Linked DNA regions of Homo sapiens: region 2 is linked to region 1. Evidence: fine-mapped expression QTL. Tissue or cell type: whole blood. Region 1 holds a variant in brackets; the other region holds the start of a gene. All regions are shown on one strand. Distances are between the middles of the regions.

What was found. PIP is the estimated chance that this variant, and not a neighbour inherited with it, causes the effect.
Region 2: it holds the start of TYMP, and the variant in region 1 is fine-mapped to the expression of TYMP in whole blood (TOPMed, PIP above 0.99).

What each region holds. Positions count from the first base shown.
Region 1 is chr22:50,501,262-50,509,261 of GRCh38, forward strand. It overlaps LMF2 (lipase maturation factor 2), which reads right to left and starts at 6,441. Exons shown (of 14, transcript NM_033200.3): 1 at 6,321-6,441; 2 at 5,521-5,774; 3 at 5,377-5,405; 4 at 5,024-5,241; 5 at 4,774-4,952; 6 at 4,413-4,554; 7 at 4,142-4,276; 8 at 3,968-4,073; 9 at 3,796-3,892; 10 at 3,541-3,723; 11 at 3,298-3,466; 12 at 3,079-3,190; 13 at 2,547-2,643; 14 at 1,688-2,438. The coding sequence starts at 6,414. The coding sequence ends at 2,130. NCAPH2 (non-SMC condensin II complex subunit H2) reads left to right here and starts at 6,963. Exons shown (of 20, transcript NM_152299.4): 1 at 6,963-7,184. The coding sequence starts at 7,077. The variant G/A (reference allele first, on the strand shown) is at 4,473.
Region 2 is chr22:50,525,404-50,533,403 of GRCh38, forward strand. It overlaps TYMP (thymidine phosphorylase), which reads right to left and starts at 4,609. Exons shown (of 10, transcript NM_001953.5): 1 at 4,501-4,609; 2 at 4,093-4,316; 3 at 3,733-3,935; 4 at 3,109-3,207; 5 at 2,185-2,314; 6 at 1,762-1,880; 7 at 1,173-1,335; 8 at 843-1,073; 9 at 598-738; 10 at 349-515. The coding sequence starts at 4,306. The coding sequence ends at 367. It overlaps SCO2 (synthesis of cytochrome C oxidase 2), which reads right to left and starts at 195. Exons shown (of 2, transcript NM_005138.3): 1 at 69-195. CIMAP1B (ciliary microtubule associated protein 1B) reads right to left here and starts at 7,095. Exons shown (of 7, transcript NM_001014440.4): 1 at 7,074-7,095; 2 at 6,566-6,708; 3 at 6,167-6,370; 4 at 5,788-5,892; 5 at 5,534-5,655; 6 at 5,309-5,449; 7 at 5,023-5,157. The coding sequence starts at 6,674. The coding sequence ends at 5,077.

The DNA of each region.
Region 1 (8,000 bases):
ACGGGTGAATTGTGTAGCACGTGGCTTACCAAGAGAGCTGCTACACAAAACAAAACACAGAACGCATTCATCAAGTGAGCTTGAAAGCTTAGGAACATCAGGCCGGGCGCGGTGGCTCACACCTGTAATCCCAGCACTTTGGGAGGCCGAGGCAGGCGGATCACGAGGTCAGGAGATCGAGACCATCCTGGCTAACATGGTGAAACCCCGTCTCTACTAAAAAAAAAATACAAAAAATTAGCCAGGTGTGGTGGCGGGCGCCTGTAGTCCCAGCTACTCAGAGAGGCTGAGGCAGGAGAATGGCGCGAACCCGGGAAGTGGAGCTTGCAGTGAGCCGAGATCCTGCCACTGCACTTCAGACTGGGTGACAGAGCGAGACTCCGTCTCAAAAAAAAAAAAACTCAGGAACATCAGCCTGGGCAACAAGGGGAGTGTGGGTGGTGATGGCAGCCTGAGGCAGGAGAATCATTTGAGCTCAGGAGTCTGAGACTGCAGTGAGCCACAACTGCACCACTGTGCTCCAGCCTGGGCAACAGAGTGAGACCCTGTCTAGAAAGCCAAGAAGCCTAGGAACAGGTTTTTTAGTTTTAAACATATTACTTTTTTTTTTTGAGATGGAGTCTCACTCTGTTGTCTAGGCTGAAGTGCAGTGGCATGATCTCGGCTCCCTGCAACCTCTGCCTCCCAGGTTCAAGCGATTTTCCTGCCTCAGCCTGTGGAGTAGCTGGCATTACAGGCACCCGACACCATGCCCAGCTAATTTTTGTATTTTTAGTAGAGATTGGGTTTCACCATGTTGGCCAGGCTGGTCTCGAACTCCTGACCTCAGGTGATCCACCCACCTCGGCCACTCAAAGTGCTGGGATTACAGCCATGAGCCACAGCGCCCAGCCTATTATTAAGCCAAGGCTGACTTCTCGATTGTTTATTCCATGTATAGGAGCCCCTTGAAGACATCTGAGAGTTCACGCCACAGGCTGTGTTTGAGCACAGGGCTCTGCCTGGGTGGGCCAGATGGAGGTCAGTGACATGAGGGAGCTGGGTACATTGGGAGCTGCCCAGGGGTCTGGCAGGAGACCAGGAGGCAGGGGCTGTACCAAGAGGACGGGCCAGAGGCAGAGGAAGCTGTGCTGTGAGTTTCCAGGGTGGGCAGTGACCTCTGATTGATAACCTGACCCCAAATGGAAACCTGGACGGTGCCCTGACTGCTGTCTCTGCTGCTGTTCTCTTCCCAGGATGGAGGCCAGGGGCATCAGATGCACCTTCCCTCCTCCGTCCCAACCCAGGGCCTCCAGCTACCCTCCCCCTGGCCTCACTCTGCAGAGGAGCCTCTTCTAACCTGCCCACCTCATCTCTCCTTCTCCCCTTGCCCACTCTGGCCCTTCCGTCCTTTCCTGAGGCCAAGAAGTGGGAGCAGGAGGGAAGTGAGGGACCGGCTCCACCACCGACCTTGGAGTGTGGAGCTGACAGGTCCACCGGGCTGTGCCAGGCCTGAGGCTCCTCTGTGATCAGGCAGTGGGCAACACCAAGCCAGGCCTCTTCAGAGAGAATGCTGAGGACGGGGCAGGAGGGTGCCCAGGGAGCCACGCCGTGGCGGAGCCTGACTGTGCTCTGGGCGGCCCACTGCCTGGGGCAGGGGAGACAATCCCATCCTCATGCCTCCTGGGAAAGCAGCACCAGGCACACAGCCAAGCACAAAAGACGCCTTTATTGGTGCCCAGATCTAAAGGGCAGGATGGGCTGGTGTGAAGATGACGTGGAAGATGACAGTGCTTCCCCTCTTCCCCTGGGAGTCAGCCTCTTCCCCTCTGGCACGGGGCCTAGGGTTGGGGGCTCTAGACTCAGACCCCCACAGCCCAGGGCAGGGGAAGGGTCTTGAGCTTGGTCGTGTTTTCCTCCTGGGCCAATCACAGAGGCAATAGTGGGAGTCCTGGGGAGGGGCATGGCTGGCGTGGGGGTGGGGCCTGGAGCCCTCAATGCAGCACCCTGCAAACCCCAGGGGCAGCCCCCCAACCTGTGCCTGGCCCTGCAGGGTCAGCTAAGGCACAGTGGCTGGGTCCTGTCCTGCCGGAGGCCAGAGCACTCCCGGCGACCTGGCCCTCTCAGGACGTGCAGCTGGGAGAACACAGCTACTTCTTTCGCCGGGTGGTCCTCGAACTACTGGAGCAGGGGTTGGGGGCTGCGGTGGCCTGTTCGGAGGCAGCTCCGGAGTCTTTCTGGGAGGCTGGCCTGCGCTTCTCCCCGCTGACTGGTGCCAGCGGGGAGGACCGGAGAGAACAGGGTGCTAGCAGGGCTTGCACAAATCTGACAGCCCCCACGGCCATGAGGAGCCCCCAGAGCAGGGCGGGGGCCTCCAGGGGAGACAGCTGAGAGCGAGTCCAGTGGAGGGCCTGGGCCAGGGTGCTGTTGGCGCTGCGGGTGCGAGGTGGGCTTTTCTCCTGTGGGAGGGAGGGAGGGAGGGAGGTTGGGGAAGTGCTTACTGGGTTTACCCCGGGAGGCTGGGGTCACCCCTGCCACCTCCCCCAGCCTGGCTGACACCCCCTTACCTGTAGTCCAAACTGCCTGAGCAGCGTCTCCAGCGTGGGGTCCCCCAGGGACACGGATGGGAAGAACTCCTCCACCCACTGGCGCCGCCACCACTGGCTGCAGCAGGACCCGATGTTCAGAAGCTGGAGGCACCCCGGGCTCCATACCCCATCGCCAGTGCCCAGCCTTACCCCTGCTCCTCAGCTCCTCACGCTCCACATCCCCCCCTGGTGCCCGGCCTTACCCCTGCACCCCGGGCTCCACACCCCACCCGGTGCCCGGCCTTACCCCTGCACCCCGGGCTCCACACCCCCCCCAGTGCCCGGCCTTACCCCTGCACCCCAGGCTCCACACCCCACCCCGGTGCCCGGCCTTACCCCTGCACCCCGGGCTCCACACCCCCCCCAGTGCCCGGCCTTACCCCTGCACCCCGGGCTCCACACCCCCCCCCGGTGCCCGGCCTTACCCCTGCACCCCGGGCTCCACACCCCCCGGTGCCCGGCCTTACCCCTGCACCCCGGGCTCCACACCCCACCCGGTGCCCAGCCTTACCCCTGCTCCCCAGGCTGGGAGAACCAGTACTTGTAGCGCTGGGCTCGGACGTAGGTGGGCGGCTGCTTGTGGAAGGGATACCTGGCCACTTGGCTCTGGACAAGGCGGATCACTGCAGCGAGAGGCATCAGCGTGGCCCCCACAGTACCCGCCCTGCCCCTCCCCTCCCCACCCCGCTCCACCCCAGCCCACTCCACACCCCCCAAGCCCGCTCCGCACCTGGCTCCTTGCCCTGCAGCAGGCGCAAGACCAGGCTTGTGAACCACGGGCTGTGCGTGTGTGGGCCCAGGGCTGCAAACCACATCTGCCAGTCCAGGCGTGGCTGGTGGGGCACCACAACCGGGGGCGGCCGGCTCAGGTTCCCAGGCTTGTACATGAACTCGATCTCCTGCCAGGCAGGCCGAGGTCAGCTGGGCCCGCTGACCTGGGCCCCACCACCCTGCCCGCCCTGGGAGGGCTCACCGTCCAGTGGTGGCCGTCGTAACTGCCCTCCAGCACCACCTCAGGCCGTCCACCAAGCCCAGTCATGCGGCGGAAGAGGCCGTAGGAGTTGGCCAGCTGTAGGTGCTCCACGGCACCAAACAGGCGGTGGGCCCCGGTCCAGAGGCGCCCGTGGGTCCCGGGCTCCACGTAGGAGTACGGCACCTGGAGACAGGTGGGAGGTTCTCAGGGCTGCCCTGCCCCCAGCCCATCCCCCAGCCCTGCAGCGCTACCCACCAGGCTAATCAGGAACAAGGCCACGGTCGCAGTGCCCACAAGGGACAGTTGGACTACAGCACTGAGCTTCCGTAGCCAGCCCCGCACCTGGGTCCACCTGTGGGCAAGGACCCAAGGTCGTCAGGCCGGCCCTGCACACCTGTGCCCCCTCCCTGCTTCCTGGGCCATGTACCTCCACAGGGCACTCAGCAGCTCCCAGACCAGGGAGGCCACACCCAGCCACACAGTGGGCAGCGTCAGTGTCTTCAGCCACTGAGAAAACTGGTGGAAGGTGAAAGCTGGTGGAGGAGGGGGGTGTGAGGACTGGTCCGCCCCTGCCCTCTGGCCCCCCCAGGTCGGCACTCACTGGTTCTGGAGTGGATGGTGCGCTGCTGCCAGTCAACCTCCAGGCCAAAGTAGTGCACAGTGCCATAGGCCAGAAGCCCGTAGACGGCTAGTTCCAGCAGCAGCGACAGGGTGGCCAGCAGGGCCTTGGGCCAGGCTGTGGGGCAGGACAGTCATGGGTCAGCAGAGGGTCCCCAGCCAGGGGGCTGGGGTGCAGCTAGAGTGGGAGTCCTGTGGGGGTGTTGGAGGGGAGAACCCCTGGGAGGGCAGGGGGCTGGACAAGTGACACGCACAGGTGGCCGTCTTCTTGCGGCTGCCGTGGCCAGGCTCAGCAGCCAGGTGCTGGTCGTCCA[G/A]CAGCGCAGTGGTAAGCACCAGCGTCATCAGGTTGAAGAAGTTGTAGTTGCCGGTGATGATAATCAGGACCTGCAGCAGCACCTGGGGGCGGCCCGCTCTCAGTGCTCCCGGAGACTGACGCCTGGCCCCGTGGCAGGCACCCACCTCCACCCTGCAGGGTGCATCCCTCTGCTACAAGGCCTTCCCAACAGCGGTTGCCAGCTGTCCCCGGGAGCCACGCTGTCCCCAACAGGGCACGCTGAGCAGCGCTGAAGGCCGAGCCCTGTCTGCCTCTCTCTGACAGCTGCGGCCCTCACCCACCTGCGAGTAGAAAGCAGCCAAGCGCAGGCGTCGAATGGGGGCGAAGAACAGGGGCGGCACAGCGATCTCAATTAGGAAGGTGGCCACCACGCTGAGCTTGTGCAGCCAGACCGGCAGGTGGTGTGCGAACCAGGCGGCGGGCGTGGGCAGGCACTGGGTCTCGTAGTGGTAGGTGAGGGCTGCAGGCGAGGGCAGGAGTCAGGGCTGGCCGAGCCCCCAGACTACCCCAGGTCCAGACCGGGCCCCTCACCAGTGAGCCCCCACCACGCAGGGCAGCGGCTGGTCAGCTTGACCACGCCTGAGGCGAACATGAGGCGGAACAGCAGCCATCGCACCAGCCAGAAGGGGAGGTCTTCGTGGGGCAGGGCCCCTGCCTGCCTGCCCTGGGGGGCCTCCTTGCGGTGGGAGGCTGGCCTCAGCGGGGCCACCAGCACGGCCAGGAAGCCAGTCTCTAGCAGCAGGGAGTCCCTATGGGGAGAGCAAATAGCACCAAGAGCCCCTCCCCACACAGCTGCTTCCCTCGGAAAGTCCTCCCAGGAAGGGCAGAGCCCTCCCCCACCCCCTACCCAGCCTCCCACAGCCCCAGGCCCAGCCGTCACTCACCACTGGAAATAAAGGAACACCTGGCCCACCTGCGGAGAGAGGGGCTGTCAGGGAGCGGGTGTGTCTGTGGACTCAGGTAAGGTAGAGGCAGGGGTGGGTGGTGGGGGTTGGAGATAGAGTGAGCTGGTCACAGGTCCCACTTGCCTGGCAGGCTGACAGGTAGGCGGCCCAAAGCAGCAAGTAGATGACAGGGTGGCGCAGTGGGCTCAGCAGCAGGGCTCCCAGGGCCACTAGTGCACCCAGCAGGCTCAGCAGCTCCAGGCCCTGGGCCGTGTCCAGCCCCAGTCTCGGCGCTTCCCACAGCAGCGTCGGGGTCTCCCACAGCTGCTGCCAGCGCCCCTTGCCCTGAGGCCGCAGCGTCCTCCTTGCAGGTAGGATGCCCTCGGGGCCATACAGGCCTGTGGGAGGGCATGTCATGGCCAGGCCCTGGACAGCCCTTGCAGACTAGACTACCTCTGAGTCAGGGCCTGCAGATCCCCCAGCCTAGGTCAGAGCATGCGGATACCTCCATCCCTAGGTCAGAGTCTGCAGTCCCTCCAGAGCCCGTCCCCCAGGTCGGGACCTGTCAAAACCCCGTCCCAGGGCTAGAGGCCTGCTCAACTACCTGAGTCAGGGCCTCCCACCCAGCAGAGCCCACTGCCCTCTTCCAGGTCTCAGCCCGATCTCCTACCTGTCCCACCAGGTCTGGGAGGAAGCCTCTCTCCCACCTCTCTCAGAGTTCTGTCCCCCACCCCAGGTCAGAGTCCAGAGCCTTACGGGAAATGGATCACCGCACACCTTCCTACCCCCACAGCGGCCTGCAGGACACGAACCGCCGCCCCCTACCCCACGCCAAGGCCTGGCCCTCACTCCCAACCCCGGACTGCGTGAGTGCCGGGCACAGAGAAAAGAGGACATAGGGTCCCGCGCCGAGGCTGGGGGTGTCCCACCCTGGGTGCCTTCACCTGGGATTTGCGTGTAGAGGGAAGCGAAAGCAAACATGAAGACGGCCGCCACGCCCTGGAGGAAGAGCTGCCGCGGGAGCCGGGAGCCCGCCATGTCCGCTACGCGGCCCGCTAGAGCAGGGCCCGCCCTCCGCGTCCGCCCGCCCGCGGCAGCCCCAGGCCCCGCCTCCTCACCGCCCCGCCCGCCCAATCCGTGGCAGCCCCAAGCCCCGCCTCCTCGGCCCGCCCGCCCGCCCGCGGCAGTCCCAGGCCCCGCCTCCTCACCGCCCCGCCCGCCCAACCCGTGGCAGCCCCAAGCCCCGCCTCCTCGGCCCGTCCGCCCGCCCGCGGCTGCCCCAGGCCCCGCCTCCTCACCGCCCCGCCCCCCCAACCCGTGGCAGCCCCCAAGCCCCGCCTCCTCGGCCCGCTCGCCCGCGGCAGCTCCAGGCCCCGCCCCACCCCGCCCCGCCCGACCCACGGCGGCCCCAAAAGCCCTCCCGTCCAAACTGGTGGCAGCCCAAAGCTCCGCCCACCCCCCCCTCCCGGAGGCTTCGACCCCGCCCCGCGACTCTTCCGGTGAGCTCCCGCTGCGCGGCGCCGGGGTTCGCCTCTCTGGCTTTTGCCCACGTTACGTCATAGACATGCGCGCGACGCCGCGCCTACGCATTTTCCTGGGCGGGAACAGCAAAATGGCGCCAGAACTAGTGGCGGGCTGAGGACGCCGTACCCCTCGGAAGGCAGCCCTGCGGTCCCTTTGCCGCCCGTTCCCTCCCGGACATGGAGGACGTGGAGGCGCGCTTCGCCCACCTCTTGCAGCCCATCCGCGACCTCACCAAGAACTGGGAGGTGGACGTGGCGGCCCAGCTGGGCGAGTATCTGGAGGAGGTAAGGGCGGCGGGGGAGTGACGCGGGGTGGGCCGGCGGGTGGGGCTGCGGGGCGGGGGCTCCGGGCCCGGGGCTGTGGGCGCCCCACCGTCTCCACGCCTATGGCTATCTGGCGCTCTGGCCGCGCAGGTCCTCGGGCTCCCTGCTTCTTTTCAAACTCCATCTCTGCCTCCCCAAATCATCCCTTGTTGGATTAGCGTGGACCTGTCATTGCAGGTTTCTACCCGTCAGCGAGCCGTGAATGATTGAGTGGGTGGTGACCAGCCGTTTCTCTAACGTAGTGGAATAGACTAGAAAGCATTATTGCTTTTATTGCAGTTATTGCGAGCATGCTTGTGTGTTTGAGAGGTCTGGATCACGATGTCAGAGGAATTTTTTATCTTGGATTTTCAAACCAATTTCAAGCTATTGCCATGCTCTATCCTGTTAGCGATTAGTGTTTCTTCCATGTTTGACAGCCCTGTCTAGACCTGTGTTAAGCTGTCTGCTCCATATTTGCGCTTCATTTTTACTCCTCAGCCCAGCTCAGTCTGGCGTCCACGACACTTAAATGTTTCTTGTCTTGATCAGCAGTGATCTCCATTCTACCAAATCCAAGGGACATAAGTCAGCATTTGTTGGACTGGCCACTCCTTTCTTTTTGAAACATGGTGGTAGGATTTTTTTTCCCTATTTCATTGCCTGATTTTTCTTTTCTATCCAGTCTCTAAGTGTTGAGTTCCTCAGGATGGGGCCTAGGTCATCTTCTGATGCATTTACCCTGAAGTGTCATTTATTTCTATGATTTTAAATATTGCCTGTATTAGGACAACTACC
Region 2 (8,000 bases), 24 kb after region 1:
GGAAACTACCCCGGAGTCCAGCGAGTCCTCAGGGCTACCTCCTCCCCTCCCAGCCCCGGCGTCCGCACCTCGCGGCGGGGCCGCGCGTCAGTGGACCAAGCACGAGAGGAAGCGCCGACCTCCAGCTCCCTGCGCTCTGCCCCGCCGGCTCAGGGAAAGCGGGCGCCACACGCTCACAGGCAGGGCGCAGGCGTCCCCGGAGCTGCGCATGCGCACACGGGCGCAGCCGCTGACAGGCTCTCAGCGCGTGCGCGGAAGGCGGAGCCCGCCGGGGGTCACGTGTTCATCGAGACGGCCCCCGCCTCCGCAGCCCTGGATCCTTCCGCTCCCGCCCAAGCACTGACAAGGTTTCGCGGCAAAGGAGCTTTATTGCTGCGGCGGCAGAACGAGCTCTGCGAAGGGCGAGGGGGCGGCGAATGGCGCGCGGTCGGAGAGTACGAGCGCCTCCTGCAGGGCGCGGCTCTGCGGGCCGCTGAGCGCGGGGCCGTCCCGGTGCACGCGGAGCCAGGGGGTCCCTGCAGAGCGAGGGGCTGTTAGAGGCCGCGCGGCCGGAGCTGGGCGGGGGTGCGGGGCCAGCAGGGCGGGGGCGGCGCTCACCACGGCGCAGCCTCTGACCCACGTCGACCAGCAGCTCTGCGCCCACCCCCAGGCGGAGCGGCTCCCCAGCGCGGCTGCGCCCGGCCCCGAGCTCGTGCAGCACCAGCGCCAGCGGCAGCGCCCGGACCAGCTCCACGGTGCCTGCGGGGAGAGGGGCTGAGAGGCGCGGGCTCGGGAAGGGGCGGGGCCTCGGGAAGGGAAGGGGATGGCGGAGGCGGAAGGACGGGGACTCCCCCGACGCTCACCATCTGCGGGCGCCAGCAGCTCCTCCTGCTCCCGGGCGCGAGGCAGCAGCTGCCGGCGTTCTGCGGGACTTCCCGAGCACAGGGCTCGGGCCAGACCGGGATCCACGCCCTGCGCCGCCAGCATCCGCTCGAAGCGGCCAAGGGCCGAGCCGTCGTCCAGCGCCGCGGCCACCCGGGCAGCGCCCTGGGCCTGAGTCCCCGCGTGTCCGCTGAGCCAGAGCAGGGCGCCCCCTGCGGGCGGGGACGGGTCTTAGGCGCGGCCGGGTCGGGGCGGCCCCAGCGGGAAGCACCCCCCGCCGCCTCCGCTCCCCTACACCCCGTCCCCCTCACCGAGCGTGGTGACCAGGTCCCTTAAGTCTGGCGGGCCTGCGCCGTCCATGCAGAGCAGCGCCTCCTCCACCTCCAGGGCGTGGCCCACGCAGCGACCCAGGGGCTTGTCCATGGCGGTCAGCGCTGCCGCGACCCGAAGCCCTAGGCTGGCTCCCACGCCAACCTGCGGAGAGGAGGCTCAGCGTGGACCCCCCATGGCGGGGCCTTCTGCAGCCGGTTCTTGGTCGAACTCCAGCCCCTGCTGCACCCTGGGTTGCCAGCCCCCCAGCATGAAGTCAGGGAAGGATTGGGGTGGGGAAGAGACACGAGTGAAGTGCGACACCTCGCCATGGGGCCAGGAGGAACTTGTACTTGGTCTGGGGCAGGAACGCCACAGAGGGCTTCCCCAGGTCCAGGCCGGGCCAGCCTTGACCTCTAAAGTCACAGCAGGTTAGGAAGCCGTGAAGGAGGGAGGGACTTCGGGCAGAAGAGGGTGGGACTGGGGTTAGGCAGGACTGCTGAGTGGAGGGAGGCAGTGGGGACGGGAGGGGTGAAGGGTAGGCTGGGCCCGCATCAAGACGCTTGCCCAGGGAAAGGCCACACCGCTCACCAGCGTCTTTGCCAGCTCCCGGGCCTGCTCCTGGTTGGGGAAGACGGCGGCCCCTCCGAACTTAACGTCCACCACCAGAGCGGACAGCCCCTCCACGAGTTTCTTACTGAGAATGGAGGCTTTGGGGGAGGCAGAGGAGGTTGGAGACAATGGAGAACCTGGAGCTTCTTGGGAGAGTTCGGGGATGCCGACTTTGGGGTCAGGGGCCCTGAGCATTGAGGGTCAAGTCCCTTATTATGGGGGTGGCAGCACCTGGTGGGTTGAGTATCAGGCCACCCCACATGGTGGTGGTCAGGCATCTTGTGATGGGGGTAGGGGGGCACACGGTCAGGTGACGGGTAACTCCTAACGAGAGGCCCTTGACTTGAGTTTGGAGGTCAGGAGCCTGTGAACATGCAGAAGCAGGCCATGGAGTCAGGTCACCTGTGATGAGTGGCAGGCTGTCCACGGTGGCTGTCACATCTCTGGCTGCATATAGGATTCCGTCCGCAGGAACCAGCTGCTCACTCTGACCCACGATACAGCAGCCCGCCTGGTCCAGCAGCACTTGCATCTGGTCAGACATCCCCTGTTCTCAGTGACTTATGGTAAATGACTTAGCAGCTTTTTTTTTTTTTTTTTTTTTTTCTGTGAAGAGTCTTCCTCTGTTGCCCAGGCTGGAGTGCAGTTGGCACAATTTCGGCTCATTGTGACCTCTGCCTCCTGGGCTTAAGTGATCCTCCCACCTCAGCTTCCCAGTAGCTGGGACTACAGGTGCGCACCACCACACGCGGCTTTTTTTTTTCTTCTTTTTTTTGTAGAGATCAAGTTTCACTATATTACCCAGGCTGATCTCCAACTGGGCTCCTCTGCCTCCCAGAGTGCTGGGACAGGGTCTCACTCTGTTGCCCAGGCTGGAGTGCAGTGGCATCGTCCCGGCTCACTGCAGCCTAGACCTCCCAGGCTCAAGTGATCCTCCTGCCTCAGCCTCCTGAGTAGCTGGAACCACATGCGTGCACCACCACACGCAGCGAACTATTTTGTAGAGATGGGGTTTTGCCGTGTTATCCAGGCTGGTTTTGAACTCCTGGGTTCAAGGGATCTGCCCTCTTCGGCCTCCCCAAGTGCTAGGACTACAGGTGTGAGCCACCGTGCCCCGCCAGCCATCTGTGATTTTGACCAACTTCCCATTTTATGATCCTAATCAAAGTTCCACTGATGATTTCGGCCCAGGCCCAGTGACTCATGAGTAACCTTGACCAGTGTTCTCATTAGTGACCCTAATGATCCACCAGTGATCTTTTAGTGATTCTGGCCAGGGTCTCCATCATCAACCTGGATTAATGACTGATCCGTGGCGCCCCGTACCTGCTCTGGGCTCTGGATGACATTGAATCCAGGAATAGACTCCAGCTTATCCAAGGTGCCTCCTGTGTGCCCCAGACCACGTCCGCTGATCATTGGCACCTGGTGGTCAGGGATGCTGAGTACCCTGCACAGTACCCCTCCCCCACCTCTGTGCATCCCTTCACCTTCCCTGGCTAGGAGTGCAGCTGGATTTGGAAAGTATTTAAGCAGCTATAGGGGTGCCCAGCTGGTGAGGGAATGGAAAGGAAGTTTTCTTGGTTGAGAAGTGTCAGTAGGGGAGGAGGTTGGTACCTGTCCTTGGGGAAACAAGGCTTGGGGCAGAGGGAGGAAAGTCCTCAGCTCCTCCCTTGGGGGAGCTGTCTGGGGACCCAAGGGGAAAGGGGTCTGAATTCCATCAGTGGATCTTTTTCCTGCTCCAAGGGGCCTGGTCTGGAGCCAGAGGGGCCCCAAGCGCTGTGCTGGGGAACGGGGTGGGGAGAACTGTGCTGGGGAGCAGGGTGGGGAGAAGCCTTGGTAGGGTCTTGGAGGCTTTGGGCCAGGCTTGAGGTTGGGAGCTGCCTGTGGATGGACTGGTTGCTGCATGTGCGGTATAGGCTCCCGTCTGGAAAGGAGGTGGTTTCTAACCTTGCAGCCACATGCCGCCAGGGCAGGTGCGAGGACCAGGCTGACCTTGTCACCCACACCCCCTGTGGAATGCTTGTCCACAAGCTGCTGGCGCCAGGCCTCTGGCCACTCCAGCTGCTGTCCCGACTGAGCCAGGGCCTGGGTCAGCACCGAGGTCTCCTCCAGATCCATGCCCCGAAGTCGGATGGCCATCAGCATGGCCCCTGGTATGTGGGGGTACGCGTGAGGGTGGCAGCCCACAGCGGTGGGGCACCCTGGGGCCGGTGCTGGTAGTGGGGCACCGTCGCACCCCCAGGGACCCAAAGTCTCTCGGGCTGACCTCCCAGTCGGGGTCAGGAACGCCCAACCCTCCCCACGCACCGATCTGTGCGCCCTGCGCGCTCCCATTCACCACAGCGGCCACGAAGCCCCTGATGTCCGCTTCGCTCAGGCGGCCTCCGTCTCGCTTCATGCGGATCAGCTCCGGGAGCTGCTTGGGCTCTGGCGAAGGGTCGGGAAGTCCCTGGCTCCCTTCCCCGGAGAAGTCACCAGGCGCGGGTGGGGCCCCGGTTCCCGGGGTCATCAAGGCTGCCATCGCTCCGGGCCTGCGGGGATGCCTGACACGTCCGGGGTCTGCGGCCTCCCGGCGTCGGTGTCTGAGCCACGTGCTCCTGTCCCGACCCCTTTCCCGTGTCTCTCCGGTGTCCGCCCCTCGGTCCCGTGTCTGTGTCGCCCTCGTCCGTGTCTGCCTCCCGCTTCCCCGCCTCGCGACTTGAGCCCCGCCCGTACCTGCTTAGGGCGCTGCCCTCGCCCGCTTGCTCCGGATCCCAGCCCAGGTACCCGGCCTCGCCCGCGGGTCGGGACCGTAGGGTTCAGGGTTCGCGCACAGCGGTCCACTGCCGGCGGCGGGGCGGCGGCGCCCCAGGACGGCAGGCGGGTGGGGCCGCCTGGAGGGCGGAGCTCGGCAGTCGCCGCCCCCGGGAAGCCTTGCACGCCGCGCCCCGGCCAATCCCCCGGTGCCCCCGGACACGCGGAACTTCCGGGCCGTCGGGGCCCGGGGCCGTCGGCGGGGGTGATCCCTGGCCGGTCCCGCCCGGCGTGGGTCTCGGGCGTCTGTGGCTCCCGAGAGTCCCCCTCCCGCCCTCGGTGGGGTCTCGACGTTCGGACGCGGCGCAGCGCTGGGGTCCCGGCCTCGCCCGACGCTCGGGCCCCGCCCCGCTGGGTTCGGAGTTGGGACACGGCCCCAGCCGTGGCTCCACCCCAGGCCTTGCGCCAGGACGCGCAGAGAGAGAGAGAGAGAGGCGGACACGATGCGGACTCGCAGACTTTAAGCAAACACGTGTGGGGCCGCTCCCGCCTGGCGGGTCAGTTGTCCGCGTCGGTCACCAGCGGGGCCAGGTAGTCCGAGTGCCGGATCCCGAAACTCCAGCCGCGGGGCTTCCGGTGCTGCGGGCCCGGAGACACCGCTGACCTCGCGGGGCCGGCATCCTCTCCGCGCCGGGACCCCTGGACCCCCGGGGACTCTGATCCCATCACTCCGACCTCAGGCCCTCCCCACTCTCCTGACTCTGACCCTTGACCCTGGGCTCCAGGCCACCTGATCCACGTTGTAGGCCGCGGGCCCTGGCTTCCGAGTGTTGTCTTGGGGGAGCGAAGTCCGCGCCAGAATCGTGAACTGGGGGGCCCGGGACTTGTAGACCCCTGGACTCACGACCTGATAGGCGCAGGGGCCCGGGGTCTGCGAGAGGGCAGAGGGTGCTGGCTGCCGCCTCCACTGCCGCGGACCAGGGACCCCCTGCGTCCGCCCCGGCCCCTCCCCCACCTTGCTGAGGTCCTCGAAGAAACTGCCAGCCGCTCTGCGGCCGTAGATGGAGCAAGTTGGGGCGGAGACTTTGCCGATGACGCGCGGACCCAAGAGCGAGGGCACCGTATAGGCCGCGGGACCTGGGGAGGAGGCAGGGCTCGGGGGTAGTGGGTCTCCGCGGACAGGCGCAGGGTGGTCCCAGCTCCCGGAGGGCGGTCCCCGGTCTCGAGTGGGAAGGCCCACAGTTCTGGGATGGGCCGTTCTGACCTCACCTGGGCTCTGCTGTTCCGCCTGGACACCCCAGTTTCGGGGAGCAATGGTGTGCCGAGGCGCACTGGGGTACGTCGCGTTCCCCGCTCGCTCCGGGAAGTACCTGCCTGCGGGGCGGATCAAGGGTGTGGGGGGCTAGAACTGCGTGGGAGCCTGGTGGGTACCCGAGATGGGGTCCTGGGACTAGTGGGGAGTCTGAGCCACGATTTATCAAAGCCCCGTGGGGTTCGGGGTTTGGGATTTGAGATCCGGATATGGGGGTACCGAATATGCGGTGTTAGGGTATCCGAGGGGGACTCGGGGTTCAGGTCGGGGGTTCCCAGGTGGGCCTCCCTGGAGGCAGTTCGGCGTTGGGGTGGCCAGGGGCCCGGGGGTCCTGACCAGGTCCCGGAGTGAGGAAGGGCGCTGAGCGGCGTGGGCGGCCGTAGATGGAGTAGGCGGGGGCGCCGTCGGTGCCGCGCACGGTCATGCGAGCGGGCACCAGGTGGCCTGGCCCGGGGCCGCACGTCGTCTGCTGCGTGGGGAAGCGCGCGCCGAAGGTGAAGGCGGGGGCGCGCGGCCGCGACGGGTCATGCAGGGCGTAGCCTGGGAGCATCCGAGTTAGCGTCTGGCCGGGCCCAGCCCCAAGCCCCATCTGCAACACGGACCCTCCCCCGGCACAGACCCCCTCTCCCCTCTAGCAGGCACGGTTCAGCCCCGAGCGCAGGCCTCCCTGGTCTCTTCCCCTTCCCTCCCCCAGGCGCCGTCCCACCCCTCAATCCCGGGGCCTGCCCCTTCTACCGGTGTTGGGCGGCAGCTTGTATTTGGGCCCGGGGCCTCCGTAGTGCGCCGCGATGGGGCCGCGGGGCCGGTGTGGCCGCCAAAGGCCCACCCAGGCGTCCGAGCCCATAGCGCGGGTGGGGGGCGCTTACGGCTCGCAGCACCTGCGGACAGAAGGCGGTGGCCGCGGCCCCTGCACCGCAAATTCTTGGGGAGCGCACTTTCCCACTACCCTGGGATCAGCGCGGGGCGGGGCGGGGCCTGGACCGTATCCCTGGCGCCAGCAAAACAAACGCGAGCTTCCTTCCCGGCTGTGTGGAGCTTGGGGCCGGGAGCGGATCCAGGGCCATCACCCGGACTCCAGGCGCATTAGGCAGGGACGTGAACTCGCGGGGGCCAAGTCTAGACCCAGACTTGGTGAAGGGAATCACCTGGGGGTGGGGTGGGGGCAGGAGATTTTCGTGCTGTTGGGAAAGGGTGCCCCGGGAAGGGCCTGCGTGGGGGACCCGGTGCCCCGAGGTGCACTGACCTGTTGTGGTAGCTCCTAGCGTGGGAAAACAAAGCGACGTGGCTGGACATCCCCGCTCCGCCCCGCCCACCTCCCAGACCCCATTGTGGCCCTTTCCCGCTTCCTGGCAACCGCACTGACTGCCTGCCCCCCCAACCTGGGTCCGCCTCCCCCTTCCCCACCACCCAGTGCCGCCGCTGGGCCTCTGTGTGGATTCTGTGGCACGGGTGGGATAGTAGCCTGGGCCACCCAGAACGCTGGCCTCACCCTTACCCAAGTTTCAGTATACCCATTCTGGAATAGGACAAATCTGCAGACAAAAGCAAGGATGGGAATAAAGGAACTGAATAATGCAAAGCACACACTCCATTTAATTATGTGTAGAGAGAGGACTTATCTATTTAAGTCCATGAAATATTCGCAAAAAAAATCATGTATTGGGCCACAAAATAATCACACAAATTGAAAAAAAGATGTGACACATGATTTGATTACAATCAAATACAATTCTAGGCAAACAAAATGTAAAAAAAAGAAGAAGAAAACTCAGCCTGGGCAATACAGTGAGACCCATCTCGACAAAAAACTTTAAAAATTAGCTGGGTGTGATGATGTACATCTGTATTCCCAGCTATGGGGTCGGTGGCTGAGTCGGCAGGATCTGTTGAGTCTGGGAGTTGGATCCTGCAGTGAGCAGTGATCCCACCACTAGACTCCGGCCTGGGTGACAGAGTGAGACCTTGTCTTAAAAAAAGAAAAAAAAAGGGAGAGAGAGAACAGGAAGCAGGAGCAAACAAATATTTTGAAATTGACAAATCTTTAAAAAAAAACCCTGGATCAAAACTTGTCAGAAATAATCTGGTTACAAACTGTAGCAGGAAGAGCCGCAGACAAAACTCCTCAGACACCAGGTTAAAGAAGGAAGGGATTTATTCGGCCGGGGGCATC